Homo sapiens: one gene and its partners. The protein of the gene in region 5 purifies or fractionates together with the protein of the main gene of each other region. This does not show direct contact. Each region holds a gene or a part of one and is shown on either strand. Other genes may lie near its edges.

Evidence for each region.
Region 1: the proteins of PPP2R5A (region 5) and VSIG1 purify together in Homo sapiens (co-immunoprecipitation; one large-scale study listed by IntAct). This does not show direct contact.
Region 2: the proteins of PPP2R5A (region 5) and PPP2R2D purify together in Homo sapiens (affinity purification with western blotting; one study listed by BioGRID). This does not show direct contact.
Region 3: the proteins of PPP2R5A (region 5) and CDK17 purify together in Homo sapiens (affinity purification with mass spectrometry; one large-scale study listed by BioGRID and IntAct). This does not show direct contact.
Region 4: the proteins of PPP2R5A (region 5) and SLK fractionate together in Homo sapiens (co-fractionation; one large-scale study listed by BioGRID). This does not show direct contact.
Region 6: the proteins of PPP2R5A (region 5) and ARHGEF2 purify together in Homo sapiens (co-immunoprecipitation; 2 studies listed by BioGRID and IntAct, with this or other methods). This does not show direct contact.
Region 7: the proteins of PPP2R5A (region 5) and MTCL1 purify together in Homo sapiens (affinity purification with mass spectrometry; one large-scale study listed by BioGRID and IntAct). This does not show direct contact.

The regions. Positions count from the first base shown.
Region 1 is NC_000023.11:108,043,154-108,048,039, forward strand, and holds the start of VSIG1 (V-set and immunoglobulin domain-containing protein 1 isoform 2 precursor), read left to right. Parts: upstream 1-1,911; 5' UTR 1,912-1,977; coding exon 1,978-2,026; intron 2,027-4,886.
Region 2 is NC_000010.11:131,949,144-131,953,376, reverse strand, and holds part of PPP2R2D (serine/threonine-protein phosphatase 2A 55 kDa regulatory subunit B delta isoform), read right to left. Parts: coding exon of another isoform or gene 4,231-4,233; exon of another isoform or gene 2,973-4,230; intron 1-2,972. UniProt on the Homo sapiens protein: Substrate-recognition subunit of protein phosphatase 2A (PP2A) that plays a key role in cell cycle by controlling mitosis entry and exit. Involved in chromosome clustering during late mitosis by mediating dephosphorylation of MKI67.
Region 3 is NC_000012.12:96,281,607-96,285,839, reverse strand, and holds part of CDK17 (cyclin-dependent kinase 17), read left to right. Parts: intron 1-2,194; coding exon 2,195-2,237; intron 2,238-3,240; coding exon 3,241-3,331; intron 3,332-4,233. UniProt on the Homo sapiens protein: May play a role in terminally differentiated neurons. Has a Ser/Thr-phosphorylating activity for histone H1.
Region 4 is NC_000010.11:103,969,606-103,973,838, reverse strand, and holds part of SLK (STE20-like serine/threonine-protein kinase), read right to left. Parts: intron 1-4,233. UniProt on the Homo sapiens protein: Mediates apoptosis and actin stress fiber dissolution.
Region 5 is NC_000001.11:212,351,177-212,355,409, forward strand, and holds part of PPP2R5A (serine/threonine-protein phosphatase 2A 56 kDa regulatory subunit alpha isoform), read left to right. Parts: intron 1-1,641; exon of another isoform or gene 1,642-1,774; intron 1,775-4,233. UniProt on the Homo sapiens protein: The B regulatory subunit might modulate substrate selectivity and catalytic activity, and might also direct the localization of the catalytic enzyme to a particular subcellular compartment.
Region 6 is NC_000001.11:155,954,040-155,958,272, reverse strand, and holds part of ARHGEF2 (rho guanine nucleotide exchange factor 2), read left to right. Parts: intron 1-390; coding exon 391-560; intron 561-3,303; coding exon 3,304-3,371; intron 3,372-4,233. UniProt on the Homo sapiens protein: Activates Rho-GTPases by promoting the exchange of GDP for GTP.
Region 7 is NC_000018.10:8,829,821-8,833,415, forward strand, and holds the end of MTCL1 (microtubule cross-linking factor 1), read left to right. Parts: intron 1-1,786; coding exon 1,787-2,020; 3' UTR 2,021-2,958; downstream 2,959-3,595. UniProt on the Homo sapiens protein: Microtubule-associated factor involved in the late phase of epithelial polarization and microtubule dynamics regulation.

The DNA of each region.
Region 1 (4,886 bases), on a different chromosome or scaffold from region 5:
CACAAGTCATATCTTGGGAAATGAAAGGAACGTTCTTTCTCTGTCACCTGCTGTTCCTCCTCACCCTCCACTGCCTTATACGGCCCAGTACGCAGAATTCAAGCCAGTGCTAGATTATGTGCTACATGCCTGACAGTGAGACTCATATTATAACATTGCTTCTGCAGGAGTTCTTGCGTGCAGTCAACGAGTTTACCATTACATCTTGGGACACGCTCATTTTAAAGTTGGGAACTGCCTGTATAAGACATGGTCCCTACCCTGGAGGGATTCACAGTGACTAGATTTAAGGTAGACCAGTTAATAAATGCGAAACTACTGGAGAATAATCAATGGTCAGCTGTAGGATATTGGCTTTAAGTAAAATGGAAATTTATGCTAGGGTGGTATGTCGGTTCATTGAAATTCTCACATAGGACAGTATGACTGATCTATGCTAAGAATATACTTGGCTAGTAAGAGGAGGAAGAAGAAAACTCTAGTGATGGAAATCACCTGGAGCCAACGTTTGGCATCAGACATGAGCATGGACAGGATAGGCTGCAAGGAGGAATCAGGCATGATGGAAGCAAAATGGCTTTCTAAGAAGCAGTGGGAGATTGGAATGGCTAAAGTAAGATGGGGTCAAACATTTCCTGTAAATTAAAGACAGGAACATAAAACATATCACTTGAAATTTGTACACATTTCATGTGACTGAACACTTTGAGGCAATAAATCTTGACATACTTTTTCAGGGGCATGAGTTAATGTGGCTAAAGTTCAGATGAGGTGAGGATCAGATATTGGAAGAATGGGAATCCATATTAAGGACTTTGGATTTGATGAAAGAGTCCATTTATGGTGTTACTGGAAATATTTCACTAGGGCTGGAACATTGGCCTGCGGCTGGCACACAGGATGAAGGTGGAATAAGTCAGGGAGACCACTTAGGAAGCTGCTATGATAGGCCAAAGTGGGAAGCTGAGTACCTGGACCAAGATGGAAGCAGCAGATTGGAGAAAGAACACATCTGAAAGTCGCTGTGGAGATGGAAATGATAGGACTTAGAAATCACATGGGAAGAGCCAGAGAAAGTCCTTAGGTTTCTCCGGGTAACTTAAGCATAATAGGAACACTATTAGAAGTTCATGTTCCCATGAAAGTTCCTTACCTGTGGAGCCTCCCATGCCCTCCTGGTGAACCTCCATTTCTAAGGAAACCCTATAGCATTTACTGAGTATCTTAATTCTCCAAAAAATCAGACTTCTCCAAAGAAAGTCTTTAAGCATGTATTCACTAACTTGATTTTGCAAAATTACGTTAGCAAATACGTGCTATAAGGTTTCTAACCCGACAGACAAAAGCATGTAAATCATTTTACTGCTAGTTTTGGTGGAGGGTAGTGACAACTGCCAGTGTTTCAAAAAAGAGTAACATATCCAGAGTTTGTTCACACAGAAATGAATGCTTTTTAGCTTCATAACCCCTGTGCCCTTCCCGTGAGCCCCATCTCCCCAGGAAACGATATAGTACCAATTTACTAACTTAATTTGTAAAAGGAGGTTAGTGAATCAATTCTGTAAGACTCATGGAAATATTTGAAATTAATTAGCCTTGTCAGCTTTTATTTGCATAGGCTCTCTTCCAACCATATCCCCCAGCCCAAGTACAACGTTTTAGTAAGATTGATTTTAAACAATGAGACTTAGAGAATCTGTGTACAAGGAGCTTGAATAATTTAAATGCGTGGGTTTATTATTAACACAGTAGCAAATATATCAAGGAAACACGCCCCATGAAAAGTGTTTCAAAGAAACACAAATCTGTACTGAAAAAAGTCTATACGCAATAAGTAAGCCCAAAGAGGCATGTTTGCTTGGCGATGCCCAGCAGATAAGCCAGGCAAACCTCGGTGTGATCGAAGAAGCCAATTTGAGACTCAGCCTAGTCCAGGCAAGCTACTGGCACCTGCTGCTCTCAACTAACCTCCACACAATGGTGTTCGCATTTTGGAAGGTCTTTCTGATCCTAAGCTGCCTTGCAGGTAAGGAAAGGATCTCCAAACCACCAAATATAATTGGAAACAGAGTTTCCTTTTAAATAAAAATTCCACATTTTTACATAGAATTTTCATCTCCTGTACTTCAAATGAATTGTGATTAGTATGATGAGTTAATTTTCAGAACTCTTGCTTAGCAAACATATGCCATGCTGATATATTAGGGGTGTAAGCCCATAATATTATTGTTTTATGGAGCTTCTGAATGAAAATTTTCTCAGAAAAAAATATAGTTTATTACTTTACTTACTTTGAAAAGTGAAAAAAATGAATTTACTCAGAAACCAAACTTTGTGCTAGGGATAATTTTGTCTCTGTTTTACTTACTTTAGTGTTTCCTTTAAGCTCAGTGATTGACTTGCTCTAGCAGGCAGAGCCTGGGTTGGAGGGCCTGCCCTGGCTTACATATGGGAAGAACAGAAATTTACTGAGTACTTTACTGTCTAATATTTCTTAAGGAGTTGTGGTTTTCCAATCCTAAGACTGTATTTTGCAAAATATGTGAGTGATTTATGGTGCACAACATGGGTGATTTTAGGTATCTGAACAGAAGAAAATCAATTTTGGAATCAAAATACTGATGTTAGTTAGATCCAGGAGAGATCATTAATTCCAAAAATCCCTTGGGTAGTTTTCAAATATCAGATACATTTTGCATCTGTTCTTATAAGTTAGGTCCATAGTAAATACAATAATATTGTTTATCCAAAAACAGGATTTTCAAGCCATTAGTAATATTAGGCAGTGGTTAGAATGAGGTTTACTAGGCGTATTAATGACATAAGAAAATACCCACGATAAAATATTAAGTGAAAAAGCAGGATGCACACATATGCCTAGAATAAATTACTAGAAGGTTATATACCGAAGTGCTCATGGTGGTTGCCTCTGGGTGATGGGATTATAGATGATTTTAATTTTATTTCCCAGCTTTTCATACTTCCTGGGTTTTCTACGAAGAACATTATGCTATTTTTATAATTAGAAAAAAGTGTTACTTTTCAAAGTGATCTCATGTTTAGAAATAGTTCTTTAAATGTTCATTACTAAATGTTTAAGCATAGATGTTTTATGGAGTTAAACATCACCAGAAGGCAATACTCCATTTGTCCAGTGACCTAACTAGGCCCTAGAGCTGGAAACACATGTTCCTATTTTCCCTTCTCCCCAGGCATATTCATTTAAATGTAACTTTAGATATGGAAGTTTTGTCTCTTCTTAAAGGGTTTCCAGTCATTAGCCAGTTGGGTCGACCCCTGGGCCTTCTGCATCAGCCCTCTAAGATCATACCTGTTTCCCTATGTGAAGCCTTGCCCTGGCCCATACTAGGCACAGGGTTTGGAACGGTTGTTAAGAACAGTTTTTTTTTTTTTTAACTGTACCTAACATACAAGTAATTTTTACTGATTATAAATGTAATGCATGGTCATTGTAGAAAGGTTGGAAATATGGAAATTTAAAATAAAATAAAAATCATCTGCAATTTTACCACTCAGATTTGGGTGAATTATTATTCTTTTATTTGCAGGTGTATATATTACATTTTAAAAATTGGGTTTATTCCTTGTATACTTTTTTATTGTTTAAAAAAATTGTTTAGCATCATGTCAGGATTTTATTTTATTGTGACTTTTAGAACAAGACCAATAAATACTTCAGAGTGTGTTTCCTAAGTTACTATATAACTGATTTTGTTGGTATATAGTGTACACTATATATCTACACACATATTATCTAGTTGGCCCAAAGCAGTAGTGTCAGTACAGCAAATTGTGGTATGCTCTATTGTCGTTTGCTGTGCTTACATATGTATTGAAGTCAGAGAAAGGATCACTTTAGTAATCTACACCTGTCATTAGCAGTGTTCATCAGTTGATCTGGACAACTGATAGTGTTTCCATCAATGTGCAATTTGATGTTCTTCCTGGACTTGTTTTGGAGAGAATGTCACTTTTTGGTGTTAAGCGTGGTGCCTAACACATAGTGGATGCATAGTAAATGTTTGTTGAAAGAATGAATTACTTTCCCAAATTCCAAACATCCAGACATCATTTTCACATACATATTTAAAATTGATTTTGATATAACTAAACAGGTCAGATTTTGCTTAAATCAAAATATTTTCAATGACTTCTTAGGAATTCTTAGGTTAAATTCTAATTCAGGAAAACGAGTTTTAATCAAACTTCTGCAAAAAATTTATGCATATCATTTTAGGTATTTGAAATATGTATTAGTCACCTCTTAGAAAGATATGTTAATGTGGGTTTCATTTTCTGGAGGTATATGCTATGCATTTTAAAGGAGTAATATATTTGAACTTTGAGTTTGCACTCAAATCCAAAAAAGTGAGTGATCATTTGATTATATTATTTCCTAAGTCAAAATGAATCTATTATATATGAAGTTGCTGGAAATTAAATCACTTCAAATCTATCAGATTAAATATGAATATTTGGGGGATATTTTGCTGTGGTACATTAGGAGGATAATAATCCTTCTATAAGCAAAATGTTTGCCACCTTGTAGGCATTAAATGAATGAACAATCACCACCAAAATACAAGACATTCTCTCTCTCTCTCTCTCTCTCTCTCTATATATATATATATATACATATATATATACATATATATACACATATATATATACATATATATATACACATATATATATACACATATATATATATACACACATATATATATATACACATATATATATACACATATATATATATACACATATATATATATATATACACACACATATATATATATATATATATATATATATATATATATATATACACATATATATATTCTTTTGAGACGAAGTTAAGTCTT
Region 2 (4,233 bases), on a different chromosome or scaffold from region 5:
CACTGCTAAGTGAACCCCCCGCACAACTGGAAGTCACTAAGACAGTGAACCCCCGCACACCTGCAAGTCACTAAGACAGTGAACCCCCGCATACCTGCAAGTCACTGCTAAGACAGGGACCCCCCCGCAAGTCACTGCTAAGACAGTGAACCCCCCCACACACAACCGCAAGTCACTGCTAAGACAGTGAAACCCCCCGCACACCCGCAAGTCACTAAGACAGTGAACCCCCGCAAACCTGCAAGTCACTGCTAAGACAGGGAACCCCCGCAAGTCACTGCTAAGACAGTGAACCTCCCACACACACCCGCAAGTCACTGCTAAGACAGTGAAACCCCCTGCACACCCGCAAGTCACTAAGACAGTGAACCCCCTGCACACCCGCAAGTCACTAAGACAGTGAACCCCCGCACACTCGCAAGTCACTGATAAGACAGGGACCCCCCCCGCAAGTCACTGCTAAGACAGTGAACCCCCCACACACACCCGCAAGTCACTGATAAGACAGGGACCCCCCCCGCAAGTCACTGCTAAGACAGTGAACCCCACACACACACCCGCAAGTCACTGCTAAGTGAACCCCCTGCACACCCGCAAGTCACTAAGACAGTGAACCCCCCGCACACCCGCAAGTCACTAAGACAGTGAACCCCGCACACCCGCAAGTCACTAAGACAGTGAACCCCCACACACCCGAAAGTCACTAAGTGAACCCCCCCGCACACCCGCAAGTCACTAAGACAGTGAACCCCCCGCACACCCGCAAGTCACTAAGACAGTGAACCCCCCGCACACCCGCAAGTCACTAGTGAACCCCCCGCACACCCGCAAGTCACTAAGACAGTGAACCACCCGCACACCCACAAGTCACTAAGACAGTGAACCCCCCCGCACACCAAGTCACTAAGACAGTGAACCCCCGCACACCCACAAGTCACTGCTAAGACAGTGAACCCCCGCACACCCGCAAGTCACTAAGACAGTGAACCCCCGCACACCCGCAAGTCACTAAGACAGTGAACCCCCCCCACACATGCAAATCACTAAGACAGTGAACCCCCCGCACACCCGCAAGTCACTAAGACAGTGAACCCCCGCACACCCGCAAGTCACTGCTAAGACAGGGACCCCCCAAGTCACTGCTAAGACAGTGAACCCCCCCGCACACCCGCAAGTCACTGCTAAGACAGTGAAACCCCCTGCACACCCGCAAGTCACTGCTAAGACAGTGAACCCCCCCGCACACCCGCAAGTCACTGCTAAGACAGCGAACCCCCCTGCACACCCGCAAGTCACTGTTAAGACAGGGACCCCCTGCAAGTCACTGGTAAGGTGGTGAACCCCCTGCACACCCGCAAGTCACTGCTAAGAGAGTGACCCCTCTGCACACCAGCAAGTCACTGCTAAGACAGGGACCCCCCTGCACTGTGTTGCCACTCTGGAAAGAAAGATGGTCTCCTATCCCATCCCCAGTTGGGGTCCTCACTTGCTAGAGTACATATGTGTCATCCCCACACACATTTATATTTTGTATACAGATTTTTTTTGTTTTTTTTTGAGACAGAGTCTCACTCTATCGCCCAGGCTGGAGTGCAGTGGCACAATCTCAGCTTACTGCAACCTCCACCTCCAAGGTTCAAGCGATTCTCCTGCCTCAGCCTCCTGAGTGGTGGGATTAAAGGCATGCACCACCATGTCCGGCTAATTTTTGTATTTCTAGTAGAGATGGGGTTTCACTATGTTGGTCAGGCTGCTCTCGAACTCCTGACCTCGTGATCCGCCCTCCTCAGCCTCCCAAAGTGCTGGGATTACAGGTGTGAGCCACTGCGCCTGGCCAATAGTTACAGATTCTTAAAACAAAACCGTCTTGTATGTCTTAAACATGTTGTATGTCATTGCACCGTACGCATTCCTCCTGAATTTTCTTTGTGGATTATCTTTGTGAGATCCACCTAGGTGATCCATGTAGTTCTAATAATTGATTCTCACTGCTTTTCAGTATATGTTATGATAGAGAACAACTTACCTGTCCATTCCTCTAATGATGCACCTGTGGGCTGTCTCCAGTTGTTTGCTATTTCAGGTATCTGAGCACGTTTTCTTGTCTGAACATGCAAGAAGCTCCCAACCCGACTGAATGTCACCAAGGAGGTCACAAGAAGGGTACTGGGTAAGACCACTGGTCTCCACCCTCTCCCCCAAACCATCATCATTCTGATGGGCATGAAAGGACGTCCCTCTGGCTTTACTTGCTGATCACTAAGAAGGATGAGCATTTCTATTTATTTTTCCATTTCTGCGAAACCCCATTCATGGTTTTTGCTCTTTTCTGAGTTGTTTGCCACCTTCTTGTTGACAACTAATTCTGCACCTATTCTGGATACTTAATCTCTGTTCGTTATCCTTTTGTGGATTTTGTTTTCACTTTTAATTTCAATATAAAGAAGTTTAAAATTTAATGTAGTTGAATTTCTTAATGTTTTCCTTGGGCTTTTGGGGCCTTCTTAAAGAAGCCCTTGTTTCCAGAGCTCACAAAGATGTCTTAGGCTTAGAAACACTCAGAGCTTATTTATTTATTGTGTGGGGCTGGTGAGGGCTCTAATTTTTCTCCCCCAAACACAGATAACTAAGGCCGTCCAGGTGGCAGAGCTTCAGAGTTTGCACTGCTCTTCCCTGCAGGCTGCGTTCCTCTGCCTATCTGTCTCAGCCCCTTTCTGCAGGGCCAGGCTCCCTTTACAGCTCGCTCTACTGAGTTTCCTGTTGTGATACATTGTTTCCCATTTGAAAATGCCTTTATCACAAGCAGATTCTTGAACGAGCATCTACTTCAAGGCTTGATTCTAAGCTGGCGGTGGAGAGTAAGGAGTCACACTTGCTGGATCTGTCACACGGCTTCTGGCTCCCACTGTGGCCGTGGCAAAGCCGAGTCTCAGTCTCGGTGTCCGCTCTCAGAGGTAATTTGCGTTTTTTCCTTGGGTGCATTTAAGATATTCTCTTTGCGTTTGGTGTCCTGCAATTTCATTATGAGATGGATGGATGCTGTGCTCCCGATCCTGTGTATTCAGGCTTTCATAATTTAGAGAAAATTGCTGGCCACTGTCACTTTAAGCCTCACACCCCCAAACTTTGTTTAAACGTGTGCTGTGCCTCACCCTGGCCTCCACGGTTCCTAGTGTCTCTTGTTTTCTGTTTGGCTCTTTAGCCCGCATTTCTTCTGGTTTTCCTTTCCATCCACTAATACAAGATCTGTTTAGCCAAAATGGACCTGCTGCTAAACCCACACAGTTTCATCTGTCATACTTGTCATTTCTAGATGTTCTCTGACTCCTTTCCAGTCTCCACGTCATGTTTGGCGGTCATGTATCATACTTGTCATTTCTAGATGTTCTCTGACTCCTTTCCAGTCTCCACGTCATGTTTGGCGGTCATGTATCATACTTGTCATTTCTAGATGTTCTCTGACTCCTTTCCAGTCTCCACGTCATGTTTGGCGGTCATGTATCATACTTGTCATTTCTAGATGTTCTCTGACTCCTTTCCAGTCTCCACGTCATGTTTGGCGGTCATGTATCATACTTGTCATTTCTAGATGTTCTCTGACTCCTTTCCAGTCTCCACGTCATGTTTGGCGGTCATGTATCATACTTGTCATTTCTAGATGTTCCCTCTGATTCCTTTCCAGTCTCCAGGTCACGTTTAGCGGTCATGTGGCTCCTGGTTCAGGCTGTTTCCTTCCTCTAGTCTGTGAATATCTCAAGCATTCTTAGTTTATCTTCTTTAACTTAGGATCTCAACAGCTGCCTTCTCGGAGGTTCAGTTCTGCTGTGGTTCTGCTGACTTGCTCACGGTGGCTTTTCCTGTATGTGCTTGGTAATTTTCACCTGTGAGCTCATGTTTAGATGATTTTAATGTGACGAAATCCAGAGAGACCTGGGTGTGCTGGCAGCAGCTACCCAGCATGCGTGTTCTCACGGAGTTTGCCAATGCCATTCTCTCCACCTGGGCCACTTCTCAGGGCTGTGCTTCCAGCAAGCGGCCTTGAGGAATGAGGTCATGTCTCTTCTAGTCAAAGTGCAGGTGTGTTTACTGCCCGCTGTGAAAGCAGTGGGGTTCTCCAAGCTCAGTGTGCATCAGCCACGGCCTCAAGTGTCCACCCGTGGGGAACCCAGGCCAACGAGAGGCTCATGCTGCCAGCTGTGCCATGAGAACCCGGGAACCTCATGTCTTCAGTCA
Region 3 (4,233 bases), on a different chromosome or scaffold from region 5:
TAATGCCTTATTCCGTACCACAGAGATTATGATGAAATTCCTGTTTTGCTTTCTACAGAATTATTCTGTATTTACTTAACAAAAACCTAAGAAAGGGTTATGTAAGTAAAATCTTGACTCTATAACACAAGGTAACCTATCAGTATTTTGACCAGTGTTAATGATGTAATTCATATTTGAAGAATATAAACTCTGTCCAATTCCTTAGCAAAATGTAACATCTAAATGTCAGCCATTCATTTAAGTTTCTTCTTAGACCTACCCCAAGATCAATCCAAGGCTCCCAATAAAATTTGAGTCAGAACATTTTTACTTGTAGAATGTATTACATTTTCAGGAGATAACATAGAATAACCCCTTTGACTGCATTTTCCATCTCCCTGCCCCCAACCCCCCCAAATTTTGAAAGTCACCAAGATACCAAATAAGGACATCATTTATTTTAACCCAAAGCCATTCACATTGCTCACAACATAACACACTTGTTATGCTTCCTTTTATTTTCAAGCTAAGGAAGGAAGAGCAAAACAGTTATGACACCAAAAATATTTTTAAAGTATTTATGTGAGTTGGTACTCTTATTGTTACTATAGCAACTAATACCATTCTAACTAGATTTTCTTAGGAAGAATAATAATACTTGCTGGGCTTTTTTTGCATGTCTCTCCCAAGTAGCATAAATTCTATTTTTGTCCTTTAATTATTTTTTGGTAATGTTCAGTGTAGAAGGTTGAAGCTTTTCTTTGAAGCAGAGTCTCCATGACTTAGTGCCTAGTTTGTGCCCAGGGAACTCTGGATATGTGCTAGAATGGCAAACTACATAGAATGTCTAGACTGCAGCATCCACAGGACCCACTTGAGAGCACTTGGAAAAAAACGTTACCTTATTCATAATTGTACTTCTACCAGTGAAAGGCAGTGTAAGATAGAACCTGTTATTTCTGATCAAGAGATTATTCCATTAAGATAATCCCAGGCCGGGCACGGTGATTCACGCCTGTAATCCCAGCACTTTAGGGGGGCCAAGGCAGGCGGATCACCTGAGGTTGGGAGTTTGAGACCAGCCTGACCAACATGGAGAAACCCTGTCTACTAAAAATACAAAAAATTAGCCGGACGTGGTGGTGCATGCCTGTAATCCTAGCTACTCGGGAGGCTGAGGCAGGAGAATCACGTGAACCCAGGAGGTAGAGAGGTTGCAGTGAGCCGGGATCGCACCTTTGCACTCCAGCCTAGGCAACAAGAGCGAAACACCATCTCAAAAAAAAAAAAAAGATAATCCCTAACCCTACTACCCCTAGTTATACTAATTTCATCTTTATTATGTCATTAGTTTTATATCCCTTATTGATGAATTTTTTTTTTTTTTTTTTTTTTGGGAGACAGAGTCTCGCTCTTCCGCCCAGGCCAGACTGCAGTGGTGCTATCTCAGGTCACTGCAAGCCCCACCTCCCGGGTTCACGCCATTCTCCTGCCTCAGCCTCCCGAGTAGCTGGGACTACAGGCGCCTGCCCCTGCGCCTGGCTAATTTTTAGTAGAGACGGGGTTTCACTATGTTAGCCAGGATGGTCTCGATCTCCTGACCTCGTGATCCACCCGCCTCGGCCTCCCAAAGTGCTGGGATTACAGGCGTGAGCCACTGCACCTGGCCACCATTGATGAAGTTTTATGAAGTTATTGTAGCATATTTAAATTGAACTCAATACCTTCTAGTACCCGGTGCTAAGCAGACAACTCTAAAAATTTGCTGAATAGCTCATTTCTGTGTTTGTCTTGAACAACAGTGATACATTTTGGGGTCACTTGTCTCTGTTTTCACCTATATAATAGGAAAATGATGCTCTTATATACTTGCGTTTAGTGAAAGACTGCGAAAAGTGATACAATATGTAAGCTTTCTTAATATTGAAGTTTCTTTGTTTTGAGACAGCATGGTGATTTTTAAAATTCTTTAATTTGTTCTTGGATATTGAAAATTCAAATTGAAGCCAAGTTATTTATGGCTTATCCTTAAACAAATAGCAAGGCCAGTCTTTTAAGACTAAAACAGATTTGTGTCTATTTGAAGACAACAAGAGTGACTATTTTAGGGCATTTAAATTTAGCAGATTAAAACACTTAGAAAATAGTTTTATCTGAAAAGTTTTATCAGCTAAGAGAGCATAAATTTTTACTTGTTCTTTGTTGTTTCTAGGTTAGACTCTGAAGGAATTGAGTTGATAACAAAATTTCTTCAGGTAAGTCAGTTCTTACAGTAATTGTTAAATAGGTTGTTAAGCCTCAGCTTCTTCATGTGTAGAATGGGCTCAGTAGTACTTCCTCGGTATTGTTAATGACAAATAAAATTATCTATGCTTAAGGCACATGTTTAAGTTAAAAAAAAAAAAAAAAACATGGTTTCTCCTAATGTGTCTGGGTCTCTTGTCACCTACAACAGTCTGAGGTAGTTGGTTACTGGCATTGATCAGCTGTGTCAAGGCCACATTCTCTGCAATTGATGCTCTCTATGCTCTCTTATGTTCTCTTTTCCTTATACGTACAGCCTTTGGAGGATGCTCTGCCTCCAAATGCCATTCATATTTCCCTCCAAAGCAGGAATAAGGGGGGACGATAAGGGTAGTACCAGCCACATTAGTCCTCTTGAAACTTGGAAGCAAAAGCTTTACAGAAACCCCTACAAGGTTTCTTTCCAAGTCTTATTGGCCAGAACATTAATTGTAGGAAAGACTGGGAATTGGGGAGCAGAATTGTCATAATTAGCCAAAATTTAAAACAGTTATGATTCATGATTCATCTATCAGAGTTGATGGACACCTTGAACAAACCTAGGTTGTATCATCAAAAAAAAAAGGGAAATGAGTATTGGATAGGTCGTTAAGAATGACTGCCATAAAAATACTGGGTATATGTCCACCAGTCCTTTGGTGTTCATGAAGAGAAGTAACTACACAGGTCAAATATTTTAATTTTTCTTTGCTTCAGAAAATACAAGCAATGTAAATTCTTGTTTAAGATCCAGCCTTATCTTAGAAATGTGGAACTGAGATGTTATTACACAATCTCAGCAGCGACTCAAATTAGAGTATAACTGGAGTATTCCAAATTGTTGATTGAAAAATAGTCATCATATTAAATAATCAAGATTTTTTTTAAGTAGCTCTAAATGCTAATTTGCCCATCTCCTACTTTTTGCAGTAATTAGAGAAAAAGCTAATGAAGCAGTTCTTTGCTTTTTCACAGTATGAATCTAAGAAAAGGGTTTCAGCTGAAGAGGCCATGAAACATGTGTACTTTCGAAGTCTGGGACCAAGAATACATGCTTTACCAGAAAGTAAGAGAAATCCTAAAGTGTTTTCCCTGCTTTATTTTTATTTGTCCAAGGTTAGGGTCTGGGGTGATTGGGGAGATGGCTATTGATTTTTAAGCCTAAGATTCTAGTCTTCTCTATAGTTAGATTAGAATTTCTTGAAGGGAGGTGTGTGTCTTATTTCCCTATGATTCAGTTATTTCTTGTAACACTGAGCACATTGTCACTCCTCTGTAGGAAACCAATAGTACTTAGGCAAGGATCATTAATCTTATTGGACTTTAGTTGAAACATGCCATCTGATGACAGGCATTGTCCCTAGGCCCAATCTAGCTTCGATTTAGCGTTGTTAAAAGTGAATTTCAAACAAAAACTAATGAAGCATAACCGAAACATAAATTGTTTTCTTGTGAAAATACATTTTTTCTTAAGATACAAAGATGATTTTCCTTTATTGTGGTCACACTGACTTTACTATCCCCATGACAGCAGTGAGCATATTGTCAAAGTCACTGTAATAGCAGATTTCCCATGCCTGAATAACATTGATTTTACTCTTAACATTCTATTTTTAGATTACCACAGTATTTTACTTTAAAATAGAGTAAGGTGAGTGGGGAATTAGAAGAATGTTTGGGAACTAAGCTGCCAAAAGCTTTCATTAATTTCCTATTCTCATTTATTAGACAATATTGATTCATCAAAGCTTGTGTAGCAGTCAGTGACAAAGCTAATTGGAATAAAAAATCCTTAATACTTTTCACTTCAACTTTACTGGATATATTTAAATGAAAGAATACCTCTCTGACAGAGATTGGAAATGAAAAAGATAAATTACAAGTTTTCTTTTAAAGATATTTGTATTTCACTGGGCGCGATGGCTCATGCCTGTAATCCCAGCACTTTGGGAGGCCAAGGCGGGCGGA
Region 4 (4,233 bases), on a different chromosome or scaffold from region 5:
TAATAAAGACATATTTAGACAGGCAAGTTCTTAAAAAATATGTTTTCCATGGATCCTTTCTCAGAAGGCTACTAAAGGTTGTACACAACAAAAACAAGGAGGAAATTCTAACAGGAAAAACAAAGTATTTAAAACATCCTTGAAGTAGTTTGTGTTCCCACTTCTAGGGAAAAAAACTGTAACTCATTATTAAGATAGTAAAAAAGACCTAAACAGAGATAAAACATGCACAGGTGGGAAGACTCAATATCAAAGAGAGGTTAATTTTTCCAAAACTGATTTATAAATTCAATGAAATCTCTCCAAAAAAACACAGATTTTTTGTGGCACTCAACCAGGCTAACTGGAAAATGTACATAGAAGCCCTAAGGGCCAACAATACTACTAAACTATGTTGAAGAAGCAGCAGAAATTTATTTTAATTCTTTCCTAATTAAGACAGTGGGATACTGGTATAGGAATAGACAAATAGATCAATGAAGAGAACGGAGAATGCAGAAACAGACACATGCTACATAACAGGGCACTGCAGAGCAGTGGGGAATTATTTTTCTTCCCAGCAAATAGTTCTGGGACAATTGTGTATCCATATGGGGAAAAAAATGAAACTGGACCCCTACCTCATACCATTTACAAACATCTATTCTAGGTAGATTATAGATCTAATTGTTAAAGAAAAGCAAAATCATAAAGCTTTTAGAAGATAATATAGAAGATTATCTTCATGATCACACATTAGGAAGAAATGTCTTAAACATAACACAAAAAGCATCAACTGTAAAGGAAAAAACTAACAAATTGGACCATGTTAAAGAATTCATAAAAAGACACTACAGTGAGAATGAAAAGACAGGTCTCAGAATGAGACTATATTAGCAATAACTATCACCAGCAAATGGTTAAAATTCAAAACACATATATTGTACACACACACAATCAACATACAAACAAAGACTTCAAGAGAAAAATGGATAAGAGACTTGAACACAAAAGAAGAAATTCAAATTACCAAAAACATATTAAAAGAATTACTTTTAGTAATCTGTGAAAGGTGAATTAAATGCACAATGAGAAATGTAACACATTATCAGCCTGTCAAAACTTTAAAATTCTGACAATATTAAATGTTAGCAAAGATGCAGAGCAAGGAAATTTTTTTTTTTTTTTGAGACGGAGTCTTGCTCTTTCGCCCAGGCTGGAGTGCAGTGGTGCGATCCCGGCTCACTGCAAGCTCCTCCTCCCGGGTTCACGCCATTCTCCTGCCTCAGCCTCCCGAGTAGCTGGGACTACAGGCTCCTGCCACCACGCCCGGCTAATTTTTTGTATTTTTAGTAGAGACGGGGTTTCACCGTGTTAGCCAGGATGGTCTCGATCTCCTGACTTCGTGATCCGCCCGCCTCGGCCTCCCAAAGTGCTGGGAATACAGGCATGAGCCACCGCGCCTGGCAGGGCAAGGAAATTCTTCAACTGCTGGTGGGAATGTAAACTTGTATAATTAGTTTGGCATCATCTGGTAAAATTAAAGATACACTACCCTATAACCTAGCAATTCCATTCCTGGATTAACTCTTAGTGAAACTCATGTATATGTGCAACTACCGTTTTGTGTAAGAGCCAAAAACTGGAAGCAACCAATATATCCATTAATTGTACAATAGTAAATAATTGGTGATATCATCATATAATAGAATACAATGCTACAACGAAAAAGAACTACAGCTCTATGTGATAAAGATGAACCTCACAAACACAATACTGACTTTGAAAGAGGCAAGACACAAAAGAATATGTTCAATATGATTCCATTCATATAAAGTTCAAGTGCATACAAAACTAAATTTATAACATTTAGGGATATAATCCTAGATAGTAAATGATTAAGAAAAGCAAATAAATGAATAACTTAAAGATAGGATAGTGGTTTCCTTTAGGGAGAGAGAAGATATTAGATACAGAAAGGAGGCAAGAGGGATTCTCGGATGTTAGCAGAATTCCTTGACACTGACAGTTGTTAATAATAATTCACTTTATTATCTGCTAAATGTATATGTTTCCATACTTTTTAATACAAAGATTATATATTTTACTATTTTTTAAAAGGCACACAGCCATCAGTTGTCATATAAAAACTACTTTCATCCAGCACACAGCCAAGAGTTTAGTTTCAACTGGTTTAATAGATAAAATAGCTTTCTAGAAATGCAATTCAATTCATAATCTTATGTCATTCTTTTTTTTCTGTTAAAAACAAGAGAAATCCAGCAGGGGGTGAGGGGCAGTGGCTCATGCCTCTAATCCCAACACTTTGGGAGGCCAAGGCAGGCGGATCACCTGAGGTCAGGAAAGACCACCCTGGCAAACATGGTGAAACCCCGTCTCTACTAAAAATACAAAAAATTAGCCCGGCACGGTGGTGCGTGCCTGTAATCCCAACTACTCCGGAGGCTGAGGCAGGAGAATTGCTTGAACCTGGGAGGCGGAGGTTGCAGTGAGCCGAGATTGCGCCACAGCACTGCAGCCTGGGCGACAGAGAGGGACTCCATCTCAAAACAAAACAAAACACAAACAAAACAACAACAACAAAAAAAGAGAAACCCAAAGATAAAATATTGTGAAGGATATTACATATCTTCATTTATATGTCAAATAATACTATTTTTAAAAGAGAAAATAAATTTAAAGTAGTGAAGCTTTTTCAGGCAAGGAAGTAACTGTTAAATGTGTACAGTGCTGGACTGAGTGGAAGGAATACAACAAGTACACGATGGAAGAATGACTCAGACTAAATACACAACATGATTACCTATAGGTTACACATCCCAAATCTGAAAATCTAATCTGAAATGCTCCAAAATCTGAAACTTTCTGAGTGCTAACATGACATGATGTTCAAAGGAAATGATCACTAGAGCATTTTCAATTTCAGATGTTCAATAACTAAGTATAATGCAAATATTCCAAAATCCAAAAAATTCCAAAATCCAAAACACTTCTGGTCCCAAGCATTTGGGAAATGGGATACTCAACCTCATCTCTATTTACAATATAATCTTTGTAACAGTTACTAATTTCTGTAAGCAAATGATAGTTAGAATCAAGTTTATAAACAGTTTTCTACTACATACTACTACGTACTATGTTAAGGTTCCATAGCTTTTTCTTCCAAATATAAGGAAGTTTATAAATCCTCAATTTCTATGGAATCTTGAAAAACAAAAACTTTTAGAAAAAAGAGGCCATAAGAAGACAGATAAGTTTTAATTTCAAATTTTATTTTTTAAAAAACTCATACCCTACTCCTTAGAAGCAGAGAGTAGTGAAATGAAAAAAGAAAAAATAGTGCCAGCCCGTGCTCTTCAAATATCATACTAAAATACAGTCATCAAGATCACAGAAATTCTCCTTGACACAATTTTATAGTGCTCAAATAACTACATGAAATAAGACTCTTGTTCTTCAGAAATTTTTCAATTAATGTCTCAGTACAGGAAGATAGATCACATTTTGCAGAAAGTGTCATGAAAGAATAACACAGGGCTTTAGTATCTCCACACAGTCTGCCCATGCCATTAGAAACCAACAAAATGGTTTATTATCTTCTTGGTTCCTTTCCCTATCTCATCCCAAAGTTTGCATCTATGAGCTCTAAATGTAATAACAGTAATTTCTACCATTTACTGAGCCCTTTCCATGTGCCTTATATTATCTTTTTCAATCCTCACACTGAGGATGTCTTATGGATGAGCAAAGTTAGGCACAGGACAAATAAGAAACTTGCTCAAGGTCATATGCTGCTATTGAGTGAGAGAGCTAAGTTATATTCCAACTCCAGAGCCAGTGCTCTTACTACTAAGCTGTTTATATTCGATAAAACTTATTTACACCATGAAAACTGCCCATAATCACCTACCACCTTCTAACTACAAGATTCTAGGTGCCTTGAGCATTTATTTTTGCCTTTCCAGGCTAATTACATACTCACAGAACTTTAATGGGTGAAAGAATCTAAACTCCTAAGAAAGTTAATATTATGGCTAAGAAAACGGAGGTCCAGAGAAGTTAAGTGTTTTGTCCAGGATTACAACGCTGGTTTGTGACAGCCAGCACTAAAACACAACTCTTGATTCCCAGGAGTGATCTTCCCACTACAATGAAGCCTTGCATCTTATGAAGCTCTTGCTGAAGCCCATACTCTACCCTCCACACAAATAACAAAGCTTATTTTGCCAACTT
Region 5 (4,233 bases):
TGGTTTGGCTGAGTTGGGTTAATGAAAATAGGAGCAGGATGAGGAGAGAGAGTAAGATAAATACCCAGGTTAAGAAAGGAAAATATTTTCCAACTCATAAAGATCTCTCGATATAGAGATCTTGCAATTTCTAACATAGGCCATTCCAGCACCAAAATTACGGCCATATTACTTGGGTTTAAGCCTTAATACTAATTTTCTGGAAAGCAGGCATTCCTATCAAAGCTTTCTACAAATTATAAGTAGCTCAGAGCTTTTGTTAGTTTATTACTCAAGCCTGTAATCCCAGCACTTTGGGAGGCTGAGGCAGGCAGATCACCTGAGATCAGGAGTTCAAGACCAGCCTGGCCAACATGATGAAACCCCATCCCTACTAAAAATACAAAAATTAGCCGGGCGTGATGGCGGGCACCTGTAATCCCAGCTACTTGGGAGACTGAGGCAGAATTGCTTGAGGCAGGAGAATGGCTTGAACCCAGGAGGGCAGAGGTTGCAGTGAGCCGAGATCACAGCACTGCACTCCAGCCTGGGCAACAGAGTGAGACTCCGTCTAAAAAGAAAAAAGTGCAGAGTGGAAGAATTAACTAAATATTCATTACAGCTAAGTTTCCATGTAAAGAGGAAAAAAATGAAGAGTCGGCATGACTTTCAAAACTTTTATTTTTTTGGCAGTGTAAACCTTTCCTTCCACTCAAAGCTGCATTTTTATAAAACAAGCAAAACAAAACAAAACACCGTTCTTATTCCAAGAAAATCTAACTTGAGCCCCAAAATAATTTTTTTATTTTTCTTTTTTATTTTATTTTATATTTTATTTTATTATTTTATTTTTATTTTATTTTATATTTTATTTATTTTTTTGAGACAGAGACTCACTCTGTTGCCCAGGCTGGAGTGCAGTCAGTGGCACCATCTCGGCTCACTGCAACCTCCACCTCCTGGGTTCACGCAATTCTTGTTCCTTAGCCTCCTGAGTAGCTGAGATAACAGGCGCCCGATACCACGCCCGGCTAGGTTTTTTTTTGTATTTTTAGTAGAGATGGAGTTTCATCATGTTGCCCAGGCTGGTCTCAAACTCCTAAGATCAGGCAGTGTGCCTTCCTTGGCCTTCCAAAGTGCTAGGATTACAGTTGTAAGCCACTGCACCTGGCCCACATTGACATCTTTTTGGGGGCCACTAGTCAACCCAGTGTTCGTTATTCAATACTGCCCGACATTGAAATTTGTGTATGATGAGGGTAAGGAACTACATTTGGGTTTGTTTGTTTGTGTTTTGGGTTTTTTTTTTTTTCAGACAGGATCTCACCACATCACCCAGGATGGAGTGCAGTAGTACGATTGTGGCTGACGGCAGCCCTGACCTCCCAGGCTCAGGTGATCCTCCTGCCTTAGCCTCCCAAGTAGCTGGGACTACAGGCATGCACCACCATGCCCAGCTAATTTTTTTGTATTTTTGGTAAAGATGAGATGGGGTTTCACCATGATGCCCAGGCTGGTATTGATCTCTTGGGCCCAAGCCTGCCTTGGCCTCCCAAAGTGCTGGGATTAAAGGCCTGAGCCACCATGCCTGGCCTGCATTCATTTTCAATTACGCATATCAAATGATCACAAAATTTATTGGCTTAAAATAGCAAGCATTTATGGCCTTTATCAAAGCTGCAGCTGCTTCCATGTAGCTGCTGTGGTCAAAAAGAAGCCAAGAGTGACAGTTTTCCTTGATGGTCATAGTTCTGTTTGCTGTAACTGATCTGCAAGATTTTGGGAAAATACCATTCCATTGGGAGGAAAAATGACAAGCATTTGTTGCCTTAGTTGCTGTGAATCCAGAATCTGGTCATGGCTTAGGTGGGCCCTCTGCTCAGGGTCTCTTACAAAGCTGCAGTTGGAGTGTTGGCCAGAAGTTGAGTCTCATATAAAGTGTCAGATGGGGAAGGATCTGCTTCTAAGTTCACATGTATGTTGGCAGAATTCAGTTTGTCAAGTTATGTTGGACTGAGAGCCTCAGTTCCTGGCTGGCTGTTGGCCAGAGCCCACCCTCAGATCCTTGTCACCCAGGCTTCTCCAGCATGGCACCTTACTTCATCAAAGCCAAGACAGCGAGTCTACTAGTAAGACAGAAGTCACAATCTTTTGTATCTTACTCATGAAGTGACATTCTTTCACTTTTGCCACAGTCTGTTCGTTAGAAGCAAGTCACTAGGACAGCTCACACTTAAGGAGAGGGGATTACACAAGGGTGTGAGGACAGTTAACAAGCTCATGAGATCATCATAGAAGTCTGCCAACCAAAGGAGCCTGCTACATTTTTCCTTTCTAAATAGTGAGCTACCTGTCCCAGTACCACCACTGTTTCCCATGGAACTGAAAGGCCACCTTTGTCATATATTAAAATCCATATATACATGAGTATATCTAGATACTCATATATATCTTTTCTCTCCATTTCTTTGCCAATATAATCTTGTTTTAGTTGCTGATATCCATAATACAGGTTCTGTTCCATTAACTCCCCCCACCAAAAAAACAATTCTTATTTGCTTATATTTATGGATTTTAGAATAAATGTTTCTAGTTCCAAAAAATAATTCAATTGGCATTTGATTGAAATTATATTAAATTTACTTATAAATTAAGTACAGGAAAAATATCTCTGCACAATATTGAACCACCTCACTTATTTACAGTCATGTGCTGCATAATGACATTTCGTTTAATAACAGGCTACGGGCCGGGCGCTGTGGCTCAAGCCTGTAATCCTAGCACTTTGAGAGGCCGAGGCGGGTAGATCACGAGGTCAGGAGATCGAGACCATCCTGGCTAACACAGTGAAACCCCGTCTCTACTAAAAATACAAAAAATTAGCTGAGCCTGGTGGCGGGCGCCTGTAGTCCCAGCTACTCAGGAGGCTGAGGCAGGAGAATAGCATGAACCCGGGAGGCAGAGGTTGCAGTGAGCCGAGATCGTGCCACTGCACTCCAGCCTGGGTGACAGAGCGAGACTCTGTCTCAAAAATAAATAAATAAATAAAAATAACAGGCTACATATAAAATGTCAGTCCCAGACAGGCGTGGTGGCTCAGGACTGTAATCCCAGCTACTTGGGAGGCTGGGGTAGGGGGATCTCTTGAGCCTAGGGGGTTGCAGTGAACTGTGATCACACCAGTGCACCCCAGCCTGGCCGACAATGCAAGTCTGGACTGTCTCTTAAAAAATAAAAATGGAACTGGGCATGGTTGCTCATGTCTGTAATCCCAGCACTTTGGGAGGCCAAGGTAGGAGGATTGGTTGAAGCCAGGACTTTAAGACCAGCCTGGGCAACAGAGCAAGACCTCGTTTCTACAAAAAGTAAAAAATTAAAATTAGCCAGATGTGGTGGCATACACCCGTAGTCCCAGCTACTTGGGAGGCTGAGGCAGGAGGATCATTTAAGCCTAGGAGTTCAAGGTTACAATAAGCCTAGGAGTTCAAGGTTACAATGACCTCTGATCATGTCACTACACTCCAGCCTAGGCAACAGAGTGAGGCCTCATCAAAAAGAGAGAGAAATGTTGAGAGAGAGAGAGAGAGAGAGAAATGTGATTCCAAGAGAAAGAAAAATGGTGATCCCATAAGATTATAATGCTATATTTTTACTGTACCTTTCGTGTTTAGATACACAAATACTATTGTTACAACTGCCTACAGTGCCTACGGTATTCAGTACAAGAACATCCTGTACAGGTTTGTAGCCTAGGAGCAAAAGGCTACACCATACAGCCTAGGTGTGTAGTAGGCCATACCATCTAGGTTTAAGTACACCCTGTGACATTTAAATGATGAAGTTGCCTAATGACACATTTCTTAGAACGTATCCCCATCATTAAATGACATATAACTGTATTTGTAGTCTTCTATGATCTTCAGTAAAGTTTTATGCTTTTCTCCATATGTCTTAAGTATTTCTTGCAAATTTATTCTTTATGCACATTATAGTTGTTGTTGTGAAAAGTACCTTTTTATTATTCATCTGATTTTTACTGATGTTTTATAAAGGTATTGATTTTTATATATGTATTTTTTAATGTGGCCACATACTGAATTTTCCTACTCACTCTAGTAACTTGCAGGGTTTTTTTTTAAGTTTTAAGGGATATATAAATATACAGTTACACAAATAAGTGTAATTCTGGTATTCCTTTCCAACATTATTCATCACATTGTTATCTTACTGGATTGTCTCCAAAACAGTATCCTT
Region 6 (4,233 bases), about 56 Mb from region 5:
TCTCTTCTTGCTTTCCTGCCCAAGCCCACGAGAGCTCTGGAGTCCCCCAGAGTCAAACAGCTATAATTGTTACTATTACCGTAATAATAAAAAATAAGAGCAGCTCACAGGTACTGTTACTGTGCACAGGCACTTTTACACCTGTGGGAAAAGATTATTTTCGTCCTCATTTTATAGATGATGAAAGTAAAGCTTCAAGTCAGTTAAATAATTTGTCAAGGGTTGCACACATTTCTAAGTCCCTTCTGGCTGGCACCAGTGCCTGGCTCTTAACTGGTATTGTAAGATGACTCTTCAGTCCTTTCAGTCCTCGTCCAGAAGGATTGAAGGCCTAAATATGCCAAGGGACAGGATTCCCAGGCTTAATCCTTCCTTTCCCCTGACTGGCAGGACAAGCCTTCAGTGGTATCGCTGCAGAATCTAATCGTACGAGACATTGCCAACCAGGAGAAAGGGATGTTTCTGATCAGCGCAGCCCCACCTGAGATGTACGAGGTGCACACAGCATCCCGGGATGACCGGAGCACCTGGATCCGGGTCATTCAGCAGAGCGTGCGCACGTGAGTGTCTGCCTGCCGCCTGCATGTGCTTATGACCTCAGGGTACCTGCAGCATTAGATCCCAACCATAGAACTCCCTGGGAACAGAATCCAGCATTCAGAGGTGGGGGAAGAGGTTGAGGGAGAGACAAAATGGCCCAAGACTGGAAAGGTCACCTATGTTCTTATGTCCTGTAAAGCCACATTTTATACATTGCCAACCTCAACTCCCTTTCAAATTCAGCATGAGCTGACAAGCAAGGGAATACTTTGAGCTGTCACATGGTGGCATACCTGCCAGCCAACAGTACAATTTCAGCTGCATTCACATGTTCATCTGTAGGCAGAGGGCTGTTATTTGGATTGTATTGTATTTTACATTTATTTTTCTAAAAATGAATGAAAAAGAGGATAATGAAAGCATCGATACTAGAGAGGAACAAGTCTCATAAACAGACTCAACACAATAGAAGCAAGAAGGAAATCAGTGTGTCAAAGCAGCAAATCTTTAGCTTCTATTGGACACACATTAGATTTGAGGCAGTCAACTATGTGTCTAATTGTGATGGGAAAAAACATCAAATAAAGCACAGGTAAGATGTTTAAAATGGATTCTGGAAGATTATGCCTAAAGAATGAAGTGTAAGTGTAATTCTAATTCAGATTTTTACAGGTTTTCTTTCTTTTTTTTTTTTAATTTTTTTTGAGACAGAGTCTCGCTCTCAGCTCACTGCAACCTCCACCTCCTGGATTCAAGCGATTCTCCTGCCTCAGCCTCCCAAATAGCTGGGACTACAGGTGCCCACCACGACCCCAGGCAAATTTTTTTTTTTTTTTTTTTTTTTTGGAGACAGAGTCTCTGTTGCCGGGCTGCCTCAGCCTCCTGAGTAGCTGGGACTACAGGCTCACGCCACCATGCCCAGCTAATTTTTGTATTTTTAGTAGAGACGGGGTTTTACCATGTTGGCCAGGATGGTCTTGATATCTTGACCTCGTAATCGACCCGCCTCAGCCTCCCAAAGTCCTGGGATTACAGGCATGAGCCACTGCACCCAGCCAAATTTTTGTATTTTTAGTGGAGACGGGGTTTTGCCATGTTGACCAAGCTGGTCTCGAACTCCTGATCTCAGATTTATCCGCCCACCTCAGCCTCCAAAAGAGCTGAGATTACAGGCATTAGCCACCATGCCCAGCCAAGATTTTTATAATTTTTCTTTAGCTTTCAGGGAATCAGTTCTCAACTTTATAATTTGTAAACCTTTTTTTTTTTTTAACTTCTGCACCATGGAATTTTGAAAAGGTTTTTAGAAATGCATATAAAAGTATGAAATTGCAGGCCAGGCACAGTGGCTCACGCCTGTAATCCCGGCACTTTGAGAGGCTGAGGCGGGTAGATCACTTGAGGTCAGGAGTTCAAGACCAGCCCGGCCAATATGGTGAAACCTCGTCTCTACTAAAAATACAAAAATTAGCCGGGCGTGGTGGCATAAGCTTGTAATCCCAGTTACGCGGGAAGCTGAGGCAGGAGAATCGCTTGAACCCGGGGGTGGAGGTTGCAGTGAGTCAGGATTGTGCCACTGCACTCCAGCCTAGGTGACAGAGTGAGACTCCATCTCCAAAAAAAAATTATGAAATTGCCTATTCCAAGAAAGCAGTTCAAAATAACCTGTCCTGTTGACAGATCTGTAGTGGCTTCTTTATTAATAGTATTAATATTTATAATTGTGGCCAGGCGCTGTGGCTCACACCTGGAATCCCAGCACTTTGGGAGGCTGAGACAGGCGGACCACTGGAGTTCGAGACCAGCCTGGCCAACATGGCGAAACCCTGTCTCTACTAAAAATATAAAACTTAGCCAGGCATGGTGGTGCGTGCCTGTAGTCCCAGCTGCTTGGGAGACTGAGGCAGGAGAATCACCTGAACCTGGGAGGCAGAGGTTGCAGTGAGCCAAGATCCTGTCACTGGACTCCAGCCTGGGCGAAAGTGCAAGACTCTCTCTCAAAAAAAAAATTATAATTGTGGAAATTAATAATATTAATTGTAATTGATTTGTTGAGCTTCTGTTATGTTCAAAGCACTTTAACATTTCATTTAATCCTAATGAAAAACCTATGAGGAAGATATTACCTTCATTTTTCAAATGAGGAAATAGAGAGGTTACCACCTGGTAAACAGTGGAGCCAGGATTTGCATCCTGTTTGCTTGATGCCAAAGCCTGTACTTGACCCTCTGCACTGTGCTGCCTTTCCAAGCGACCTTTGGAGAGATATATCTCAGTAAACGCAGATAATCAGTGCTAAGAAATGGGAGAAGGTCGGCCGGGCGCGGTGGCTCATGCCTGTAATCCCAGCACTTTGGGAGGCGGAGGATCACCTGAGGTCAGGAGTTTGAGACCAGCCTGGCCAACGTGACGAAACCCCATGTCTACTAAAAATACAAAAATTAGCCAGGCATGGTGGTGCGTGCCTGTAATCCTAGCTACTCAGGAGGCTGAGACAAGTGAATCACTTGAACCCAGGAGGAGGTTGTAGTGAGCTGAGATAGCGCCCTTGCACTCCAGCCTGGGTGACAGAGTAAGACTCCGTCTCAAAAAAAAAAGAAAGAAAAGGGAGAAGGTCAGGACTAAATTAAAGCTAGGGTGTGAGGCTGAGGAGTCTTATCAGAAGATGGAAGCATAAGGCATGTTTGGGAAGGAGGGAAGGCTGATTCTGGTCTATAACCTAGCTTCTGTCTCTCAATGGCATGCGACCTGTTACCCCTCCAGATGCCCATCCAGGGAGGACTTCCCCCTGATTGAGACAGAGGATGAGGCTTACCTGCGGCGAATTAAGAGTAAGTCCACCCACAAGGAGCTCCTTAGTAATTTATAATACATTCACACAATGGAATATTATGCAACTGTTAAAAAGATGAGATGGCTCTATGAGGGCTGGTGTAGATCCACAACTGAAACATATTAAGTGAAAAAAGCAAGGTTTAAAACAATGTAAAGTGTATACTACCATGTGTGTAAAAATAATATGGAAGACCAAGGTTGGGTGAGTAACTTACTTTTTCACTGTAAGGCCTTATATTAGTTAGGGTATGATTTAACTGCTATACTAAAAGACCACAAAAATCTTCTTCCTTAAAAAAGGAAGTAGATTGGCCGGGCGCGGTGGCTCACGCCTGTAATCCCAGCACTTTGGGAGGCCGAGGTGGGCGGATCACGAGGTCAGGAGATTGAGACCATCCTGGCTAACACGGTGAAACCCCGTCTCTACTAAAAAATACAAAAAAAAAATTAGTCGGGGGTGGTGGCGGGTGCCTGTAGTCCCAGCTACTCAGGAGAGTGAGGTAGGAGAATGGCATGAACCTGGGAGGCGGAGCTTGCAGTGAGCTGAGATCACGCCACTGCACTCCAGCCTGGGCAACAGAGGGAGACTCCATCTCAAAAAAAAAAAAAAAAAAAGAAGTAGATTGGCTGGATGCAGTGGCTCACGCCTTTAATCCCAGAAGGATTTGGGAGACAGGAGGATCTCTTGAGGTCAGGAGTTCGAGACCAGTCTGGGCAACAAAACATACATAGCAAGACCCTGTCTCTACAAAAAATTAAAAAAAAAAAAATAGCTAGGCATGATGGTACACACCTGTAGTCCTGGCTACTCGGGAGGCTGAGGTGGGCGGATTGTTTGAGCCCAGGAGTTCAAGGCTG
Region 7 (3,595 bases), on a different chromosome or scaffold from region 5:
AGCGCAGCATCGTTTGCTTGTACATGCCGGTGTGTTACTAAGGAAAAGGTTGATTCCCTTGAATGCAGACTCACAGTGATTCTTCCTTCACAAGCAGAGGCTGGCAAAGAGGGGGTACTGAATGGTCTCATAAAAAGCCTGCTCTTCAGCACCAGCCAGGCGGAACGGGATACGGTGGTGTCAGATAAACCTATGACAGCAGCTTCACCAACACACAACACACACAGAACAGATACACAATACACAACACACACACTACTTCTATAACAAGGGGAGCGCAGACACAAAACACACAGATTTCCCAAACCGTGTGTCCCAGTCAAGCACTGTGGGCTGCAGTGAGATGAGGACACAGGAGCACCTTGGGTTAGTCTGCATCTTGGTGGCTGGTGGCGCTGGTGGAGTTTTAACTGGAGAGGTATTTCTGGTTGTCACGGTACTGTTAGCATAATGCTTTGGGAACAGAAGCTTCTCCCTGTGGCCGTATGAAGTTCCAGCCACAAAAGCAGCAGGGAGCATGAAGCATAGTCTCCAGGGCCACTGTTCCTTTTCTGCTGACCCCAGAGGGAGGCAGGGAAACCGCTCGCCCCATTGCTCTTCTGGAAGCCTGTGGCTCCCACGCTGTCCTCGGGCCATGCTGTCTCTGCCGTGTTCCATCTTCTCCCGAGTGACACTGCCCATTCCGTGCAGCCGTCTGTCCTTCCCCCGCTGCTGCTCCCCTGCACCACTGGCTGGGCTGTCCTCATCCTGGTCTTTTCAGTTGCTTGTCACATCTTTTTAAATCCTCCAACTCACTTCCTTTCTTTGAGGGTCCTTGTTCTCTGTCATCCTTCCTGTGCCTTCCATTCAGTTCACCTCAAGCTTCCAGTGTCTGAGTGTCATTCCAGCCAGCGGGCTCCATGCTGGGCAACTCAGTTTTCTCATGCCACAGCTTTTTACATTTCTGTGTATCAGCAAATTCCAAATTTGGGTGTCCTGGTTTTGTAACATGTAAGGACAAGGAGCTCAACATTCTTTAAAAACAAAGTAGCTTGAGAATAAGGATTCTAGGTGATTTGCACATGGTTGAGTGTGTCTTGCATCACCTGCTCGCAGAACATTAGGATGCCTGAAACACAAAACCACCAGTACATTCTGATTCTACCTTTTTAAAATGCTGCTGCAATTGAACAGTCATTAAAGAAAACCAGACCCAAATTAAAATTTCTGCCTGCAGCATTTTTGCCATGTTGTGGGAGTTTGTTTAAGCTACTCCCAGTCAATTTCAAATAAACAGTAGCAGAGTTCGTTTAAGACGACTGCCATTGCTAACACAGCTGAATGAAATCAGAGGTCTCTTTGTGGGCTCCCAGTAGATCCAGGCCCTGTAGGACCAGTTCACTTGTCCACTGTAGCTAAATAGATCATACAAAAGGGCCAAATGAACAGATCTACCAGATAGGAATATGATGAAGTGGCCTGTGGAGACCGCTGCCACAGTCACTGTGTCATGCCTTCTGTATACCCCAGCCCAATTCTAAAGGAGCTTTGCAAGCTGACTCATCTCACAGTATTGCTGTGTTTAATCATAATTGGTCTCTTCCCATTCATGTCACTGATCATTTGTGTTGAATTCTTTATTATTTTAAGTTATTCTGCATGAGCATAGAAAGTAGTTAATATTCACGAGTTGCCTGTGGTGTATACTTCATCTCACTTGAGTCTGTTGAGAAGTGTGTTTGGGGGAATCATCCACTGGTGACACTGCCGGTCTGAGTAACCCTGTCTCCCTTTCTCGGCTCTGAAGGAACTACCTTGTTCTGCACTAGCTCCATCCCTAGAGCCCTGCTTCTCCAGGCCCGAGAGACCAGCAAACCGTCGCCCTCCGTCCCGTTGGGCCCCACATTCCCCCACTGCCTCACAGCCTCAGTCACCCGGAGACCCGACGTCCTTGGAGGAGCATGGTGGCGAGGAGCCGCCCGAGGAGCAGCCACACCGAGATGCAAGCTTGCATGGATTATCACAGTATAATTCACTGTAATTTGCATAACCACACCATCACCATGAACAAAACTCTGCCCAACAGGAGAGATCTAGTTTTCTCAAGGTCAAAGAATGTTTTTTAAAAACACAAAGCTGCTGAATGTTCAACCTGTGAAACTGAGATGTTTCTAGAATGAAACAGTAAATGTGCCTGTAATAACTTAATTTTTTTCATAGCTCAGAAAACTATTTTTGTCTCCATCTTTTTTACACACAGTATATTAAACGAAAAGGTAAATAAGGTATAAATAGATTTAAAAAATAAAAGTTTTAAAAAATGTACATTTTAAGAGATTCTGAACACCCTCGCTGTCAATACCTGACTGCCTCTGTTAAATTTGCACTGTTACATTTTGGTTCAGTTTATTTCCATGTTGAATTAGAGTGGATTAAGTTAATTTTATTTTGTCAGTGTTACTGTTTTTTACGAATTTTTTAATGCTTCAGACTGTCTGATTCAGTGAACTTTTTGTAGTGAAAAAGCCATGAAGCCAGTAGACAAGACAGATATTCTGTATGCTGGAGGGGATACAGGATGATTTTGAAAAGGTACAAAGTCCTCAGTGGGCTTAGAAAATTCACTGTATGATCCTTATATTATCCTACTTGGCTTGCACGTCTTCGGGTGCATGTATATACCGCTACTGTGTCCTCGCCATCACCTAAATGTGACTCAGTCTGTTCCACTGTAATATGTTGTGAATTTCCTTGTACTGTACTTTTATTGTTGGTCTTCTTGCATCGATGATCCAACAGCAACACCATTTTTAAATTATTGTGAAAAGATTAACTGGCAATGTACAGAGTTTACTCAAAGTTTTCTTAAGGGAAAACACTACAAAAAGTCACAAGGATACCAAATGGAAACACATGATGATGCCTCTGGGTCTGTATGAGACCGTGATGAAGTAGAAATAAAGCCCTTCTGAGATGGCAGCATGTCTCGGTCTCTCATTTCACACACCCTCCATCTTTTCCTAAGGACTCAGATGGAAAGTTTTCCATAGCTAGGGGAATGAGGGAGAGAGGAGATCATGTAAAGAGGCAACAGCTGCTAATATATCTTGCTGGGAATGCACTCTTTGGGTACGTGATCATGTTGCAGTTTTACTGTTCCCCGTAAGAGAGTCCTAGGATAGAGAGACAGCTTTATTGTTGAAAAGCCAAAACTGTGGTGTGGGCAGGGATGTGAGGAAACTGGTTACCTACAAGTCAGAGTGTGCCCGGCCTCTCTGCCCGCTCTGCTCATTAGGAGAGAGGGAGTGGCCAATAACTCTAGAAGAGGCCTTTCCATCTCTGATCCTGAGATGAGCCCGCCTCTCAGTGTTTGGTGGAGTAGAAAGAAGTGATGCTACTGAAGAGCCCAAAAAGAATGATTTCAGGCTGAAGCTTCTGGCTTTAGTATTTCATTTAGTGCTTCATTAACCCAACAATTTTCTTCTTATATAGATGAGCTGCTAATGTAATAGGCTATCCTAGCATTACCACAGCTTCATCCTTAAACTGAAATATTTTCAAAAAATAAAAACCAACAAGTGTTGGCAAGGATGTGGAGAAATTGGAACCCTTGAGC